Homo sapiens: one gene and its partner. The protein of the gene in region 2 purifies or fractionates together with the protein of the main gene of each other region. This does not show direct contact. Each region holds a gene or a part of one and is shown on either strand. Other genes may lie near its edges.

Evidence for each region. The genes of interacting proteins can lie anywhere in the genome.
Region 1: the proteins of ST8SIA5 (region 2) and ECE1 purify together in Homo sapiens (affinity purification with mass spectrometry; one large-scale study listed by BioGRID and IntAct). This does not show direct contact.

The regions. Positions count from the first base shown.
Region 1 is NC_000001.11:21,252,464-21,255,963, reverse strand, and holds part of ECE1 (endothelin-converting enzyme 1), read left to right. Parts: coding exon 1-17; intron 18-3,500. UniProt on the Homo sapiens protein: Converts big endothelin-1 to endothelin-1.
Region 2 is NC_000018.10:46,677,054-46,680,553, forward strand, and holds part of ST8SIA5 (alpha-2,8-sialyltransferase 8E), read right to left. Parts: intron 3,458-3,500; coding exon 2,989-3,457; 3' UTR 1-2,988. UniProt on the Homo sapiens protein: Involved in the synthesis of gangliosides GD1c, GT1a, GQ1b, GP1c and GT3 from GD1a, GT1b, GM1b and GD3 respectively.

The DNA of each region.
Region 1 (3,500 bases), on a different chromosome or scaffold from region 2:
CGGCAGCCGAGCTGCAGGTAACTTGAGCGCCGGCTGCTAGGGAGGCTGGGATGGCCTCCAGGTTTCAGACAGGGCCCTGGACTGGGGGCTTTTATACTCATTTCATCTAGTCCTTGAAACTATGTGACAAAGGAAGGATGGTTGTTATGCCCAGTCCACAGATGGAAAAACTGATGCTCAGAAAGGTCAAGTTACCTGCTGAAGGGCACACAGCTAGTAAGTGACTCCAAAATAGGCGCCTGGCCGACACCAGGCTGCTTCTCTGTAATTAATAGTGTTTACTTGGAGGCTCGGGGTCATGACCACACCAGCTTACATTGACAGCGCCTTTCCAGTCTCTCCAGCACCAAGCACATCGAACTTGGTTACAGTGAGCACTTAATAAATGCATGGTGTGGATTCTGTCATTACTTTTCCCTTTTCTGAGCCAGATCAAGGTCCGGAGGCTCCTAAGTGGCAGAGGAGCCAGCCGCAGATGGGCTCACTGTACAACAGGGCGTTAGATCTGTGATGCTCTCTGTCACCCATTGGAGAAGCCCAACGTCCAAGGGCTCAGCCTCTGCCAAAGGCTGCCCTCTGGTGGCTGCTTGGTTCTTGAGGGTCCAGAGAGAATAGCTTGCTGGTTCCTTCTTTCCAGAGCATCAGCTGGCATTGCAGAGGGATCAGCAGAATGGCCACCACCGATCTTGCCGTTTCTTGACATCACCCAGGAATGCGTGGCCAGGCCTTGCTTCTCTGCTGAGGAGGGGCTCCCGCAGAGTGTCATCTCCCTCCTTCCTTACCTTGTGACCAGCCGAATTTGACCTGTTGTCCGTTCCTTCTACTTTCAGGAAGAACACTAGGTCCCTGCCCTTTACCCTCCTCCAGCTGACAGGTGTATATGGGTCCGTCTTGGGACCTTGCGCTTCATGTGCTTCCTGGCTAGTGGGGGACACCAGCTAGAAACAACCCTGTCTCATTGCTGAGTGCTTTGGGCAAAAGCAGCGGGCCCTGGGAGCCAGGGGTGGGGAGAAGTCAGGGAAGGTGAGTCTAACGATAGATGAGCATTTCCAGGCCAACTGGGTGTCCCAGGCGGAGATGCAGGCCGTGCTAGGGCCCACGATCAGGGTCAGGGGAGCCTGGCCTCCTGCTGGTGCTGGCTGCCCTTCAGCTCCCAGAGAAACTGGCCTGAGGCTCAGTGGTGCTGCTCAGACCAGGATGGAGATCAACAGCTGCTGTTAGATACCATCTGGCACTCTTTTCCTGCTCTGAGGCCAGGAGGCTGAGGGTGATGTTGTTTGTGCATTATAATTTGGTTTGTTCCAGCCGATTTCTCAGCCTGAGGGGCCCCCGCAGTGCCTCAGCCCCCTACCGTGGCCATGATGCCAACTGTCTGTGCCAGGAATAGCGGAGAAGGCACAGGAGCCCTGAGCACATCAGCCCAGCATGGCCACCAGGTTCCCCCCAGGCATCCTATCACCACTGCTTCTGCTCTCTTCTTCCAAGCAGAGGAAGAAAGGCTTTTCCTGCCTCCCAGCTGCACAGCTGCCAAGGTGGGGGGAGTTTAGCAGACTCAGCAGCTTGTAGTACACAAGCCCTGGGCTTAGATTCAGAGGACTGTAAGCCCCTTGGAGCTCTAAGTGCTGGGATTATAAGCATGAGCCACCACGCCTGGCCAAACAGCCTCTGTGTTCTAAGTACCCAAAGTTCAATTAAGATCTTTAGGAAATATATGGATTCTCTCGAGTTTTTACAGATATTTCTGATTAAATTCTAATGTGAATTTGGCTGCCTTCCTTGTAAAATGGGCTTGGCTCGTTCACTCACCCCAGCTGTGTGCCAGAACACAAATGAGACATAGCCCTTGCCCTCACAAGGGACTGTGGTTCCTCTTTTTTTTTTTTTTTTTTTTTTTTGAGACAAAGTCTTGCTCTGTCGCCCAGGATGGAGTGCAGTGGCATGATCTCAGCTTACTGCAACCTCTGCCTCCCAGGTTCAAGCGATTCTCCTGCCTCAGCCTCCTGAGTAGCTGGAATTACAGGCAGGCACCACCACGCCCGGCTAATTTTTGTATTTTTAGTAGAGTCGGGGTTTCACCATGTTGGTCAGGCTGGTCTCGAACTCCTGACCTCATAATCCACCCGCCTCGGCGTCCCAAAGTGCTGGGATTACAGGCATGAGCCACCGCACCTGGCCTGTGGTTCTTTTTTTTTTTTTAATTTGAGACAGAGTCTCGCGCTCTCGCCCAGGCTGGAGTGCAGTGGCGCCATCTCGGCTCTCTGCAAGCTCCACCTCCTGGGTTCACGCCATTCTCCCACCTCAGCCTCCCGAGTAGCTGGGACTACAGGCACCCGCCACCACGCCCGGCTAATTTTTTTGTATTTTTAGTAGAGACCGGGTTTCACCGTGTTAGCCAGGATGGTCTCGATCTCCTGTCTTCGTGAGTTGCCCGCCTCGGCCTCCCAGAGTGTTGGGATTACAGGCGTGAGCCACCGCGCCCGGCCTGTGGTTCTTAACTTTAAGTCACAGAGTCCTTTGAGAACAGATCAAAAACCATGGACTATCTCCCAGAATAAATGGGTATATATGCATATTTTTAAAATTATGTCTGACATTTAAAGACGTCCTGGCCGGGCATGGTGGCTCAGGCCTGTAATTCCAGCACTTTGGGAGGCCGAGGCAGGTGGATCACCTGAGGTCAGGAGTTCAAGACCAGCCTGACCAATATGGTAAAACCCCGTCTCTACTAAAAATACAAAAATTAGCCGGGTGTGGTGGTGTGCGCCGGTTGTCCCAGCTACTCGGTAGGCTGAGGCAGGAGAATCACTTGAACCCAGGAGGCGGAGGTTGCATTGAGCCAAGATCACACCACTGCACTCCAGCTTGGGTGACAGAGCGAGACTCCGTCTCAAAAAAATAAAATAAAATAAAATAAAATAAAATAAAATAATAAAGAAGTCCTGGCCCCCTGAAGCCTGTGTTCTAAGTAAGAATCTCTTCCTGGCCTGCCACACAGGGTTGTTGGAGAATAAGTTGAGGTAAAGGATGAGAGTTCATTCAGTAAACTCATTTGCACAACCCAGTACAAGCATAACATATTATATTCATCATTATTGTTACTATTCCTTTGTTATTAGCGATGTCACCCAGGAACCCAGCACTAAATCAATTTGATTCATTCTACTCTGGGACAGAGAATGTCTTGTTCCCTGGTGTCTGGAAATGGGGTTTTCTTCCCATACTCCAGGTAACTTAGGGAAAAGCACGCCAGGTTTCACAGTGTGGTTCTAGGCTAGCCCTGCTGGGGTACAGAATGCTTCCAGGCTAGTCCCCAGCAGAGTCTGAACTCAGAGCTGTGAATCAGACACTCTTCCATTACTTCTGGGGGCCTGAGGACCTTCCCCTTCCTTTCTAGGACCCTCACGCCAAAGGCTGTTTGGGCCTGAGCCCCATTTTCTACCCCATTTCTCCAGCTGAGATGAAGCTCAGAAGCATTCTTCTCTTCTCTCCCAGTTTCAAAC
Region 2 (3,500 bases):
CCCTCCAGTGCCACTGTGGGTAAGTCGCTACTGCTGTAGGCGGCAGGGTTAGGGAGAGGCACCTATAAGCACAGGCTGCTTCCCGGACGATGACAGCCTCCTAGAGCATTTGTCCCTGGAGGAGGGCCCCGTACTATCCTGCAGGGGCATCTTGGTCAGGATCCCTCATGTTCTGGTGTCACTGTCTGGGAAGCTAAGACAGAGGTTTGGAGCACAGACTTTGGGGCTCTACAGATCTGGGTGCAGTTCCCTCCATTGGGTGCCGTTCCCTCCATTGGGTGCCTGACCAAGGGCAAGTCCTGGAATTGCTTTAAGCCTCTGTCTCCTCATCTGTACAATGGGAGCCTCCTTACCCAAAGGGGTCTCATGATGATTACAGGAGATAATATAGGGAAAGTGCTTAACGTAGCTTGATAAATGCTAGCTAGTATAATGAGAAATATTAATTATGGTTTAGATCCATTCATCATGAATGTCCCCCCAAAATAAGGACATTGTACAGACGCTGAAGATTTTTACAAAGCTTCTAGTTGTAGAGATGAGGAAACTGAGACATTGAGGGAGAGGAAGGACTGGCCCTAAGACCCACAGGCAGGAATATGGCCAGCAGCCAGGTGTCCCAACTCCTCTGTGGGCTGGATCCCGATGCTCCAATCCTCAGCTCCTACGAGGGCCCTGGCTGGGGCAGATTCCAACCTGCAACACCCTCAGCTGTGGGAATCCTGATGTCTGTGTCACCAGGGAGCCTCCCCCAAACACTGCCCATCTGGAACATAACTAGTACCCAGAGGGCTTCCAGTAGAGGGCTCTGTCCACAGCAGGCACTCAGTAGAGCCCCAGGCATGACTTGACCCAGTCACATCTTTGCTCTGGGCCTGTTTCCTAAAGTGGAACAAAATGGTCTTTAAGAACCTTCTAGTTTTTATATTCCATGGTTTCAAGAACTGGGTTCAATTAACCATGCAGTGGCTAGAAATCTCAGGTAACTGGAATCTTTCCCAGAAATTCCCTCCCTGGGAGAAATAGGCAGAGCTCAAGCAAGTAATAACCATCCACTGTCCTTTGCAGTTCTTCCTGGTTTAGCAGGTGTTTGGGATCATTTCATCCCCTTGGCTACTCCCCTACATTCCTGACCAGCAGACTGAGACTCAGAGCCACCTGAGGTTTTCCCAACCAGGACCAGAGCTCAGAATGCAGGTGAGAGTCAGCACTGAGAACAGTGTTGTGCACAGGGCACAGGTTCCACAACAACCCCCCCACAGGAAGCCCAAGCCAAGACACAAAAGTTTGGCCAAGAACGGAGCCCTGGATCAGGAGCCTGGAGGCCTGGGATAAAGCCTGCACTCTCCACGTCCCTGACTGGCTCAGCCGGGGGGCCTGTCAAATGAGGTGATTGGATAGCAGATCCCACTCCCTGATAGACTCTTACAGCTCCTAACCCTCCCAGAGCACCCAGCACGTGGGACTGGGTCTATAATCTCTGGGCCCTGCACCCCCAGAAGACACAGATAATGCCTTTGTTTATCCTTATGTCTTCCTAAGTCCAACCACAGACCAAAGCAGAATAGGCTTTCCAGAAATGTTTAAGGGGAGGAAGAAAAGAGGAAGGGAGGGAAGGAGAAAGGGGAGGAGGCAGGGAGAAAGGAAGGAGGGAGGGAGACAGGTTGCCAGGCAGGTAGGCTGAAGTCCTCCTCCCAGCACTAACATCCTATGATTCCACAAAGCTAAGTTCTAAGGCAGTTAGTTCACCAACAGTGTCTCTTAGACACCATCCCATTTATGGTGGAAACACCACAGGGAGAAGCAAAGGGAATTAATTTCAGATGTGAAATGATATGTGAACCCCTCTCTGCCTAAGCCCAGCTGACTGCCCCAAGCCCAGGCCCTGGGGTCTGCTGTGAGAAGTCCCGCCTTCACAGCGGAAGCCTCAGTGATGCTGGTGTCGGAGGCCACAACTCGTTTCTCTCTGCTAAGCTCACCACCTGACATGTCAGTGCTTTCCAGCCCAGAGCCTATGGTTCCGACTGAGGAACACGATACAGCAGGATTCTGCAGGATTCAGAGACATGAGAGGAAGAGGTCTTTATAAATAACTCCTGGTTTAAATGGAGCTGAAAATAGGAAGACAAAAGAGGAAGCCAATTGCTAAGCACTTATTGAGTCAATAACATTGGCTTGGAAGCCATAGTGCAAGTGGCTGGTTTGGTTTATTTCCTTCTCATCAAAAGAGCTAACGCAGGATTGAACCTGGGGGCACCAAGACCGCATGTGTGTCCGAGGATGTGTCTGAAAGGATGTGGTGCTTCTCAGATGATGATGTCTCGACTAAGACATAACCCAGGCCTTGGGTTAGATCTCTCGGTGTCACAGAAGAACCTGTCGGGTGGTGTGGCTTGGCTGTTAAGTCCCTGGACCTCTTGAGATCACTTTCTTCACTGGAAGGTCTAGTCACTGGGTTGGCTTCTAAGCTCTGAGATTTAGATAGCAATTCATAGCTAAGTCTTCGATATAAAACACAGGAACCAAAAGTGTGAATAAAATCTTGACTGTGCTCAAGTGTCCTGTGAAGTGTCCTGTCTCCACTCTCAATTCCATTCTCTGTAGGGTCTTCCTTCAGCTGCAACAAGGGCCTGCAGTTTGTGCTCTCTCTCGGATGACAAAATTGGGTGGAAATGTGCTTTATTCACTTGCCGTCCCCAGGGCCCCTGATCTTGGGGTGTGGCCCAGCAGCATGCTAGCCAGGGCAGGTGGACGCACTGGGCGGATGCACCGGTGGGGGCCAGGCCAGGAGGCTCAGCACAGAGCTGACTCTGCCCCGGTTCCTAACCCTGCCTCCCTACCCCAGGATCCAAGTACAGAGCTGAACAATGGAGGGAGAGACAGCCTGAACGCCAGGACCCCACGCTGCCCGGTTCGGGGCTCCCAGTTCCACCAGGAGGGACAGCAGGAGAGGGGGCGCCGCTTGCCGGGCAGCCTGGCTGGCAGCCATCAGCAGCAGCTGCAGGTGCCCGTGTGCACGCGGAGGATGCCTCGGCTGTGCAAGTGCAGGAAGTTGAAGATCTCAGAGGGCATGGCGTGGAAGCCGGGACGCGGCTTGACGTTGTCATAGTAGTGGTGAGTGATGTAGAGGCCCGAGGGGTTCATGGGGAAGGCCCAGAAGCCAAAGAGGTGCACCTCCTCACAGAGCTCCAGCGCCGCAGTGACCAGAATGAGGCCGGTGCTGATGCGCTTGGCGCGCACCCCCAGGCTGAGCCAGTAGCGCGACACGTTGACCAGGTACTGCGGATGGAAGTAGTAGACAGCTTGCGGCGATTCGAAGTCGTCCAGCACGTACTTGACGCGGATGGACACGTCGGTGTTGCGCGTGTTGTAGAAGGCAGGCAGCAGCACCGACGCGTTCTCGTACACCTGCAGCACGCGATAGAACGGCCGCCGCCACTTCTCCAGCTTGTGGAACCTACACAGGGCGCGAGTGAGAGGTGAGCACCCACTCCTCCGTG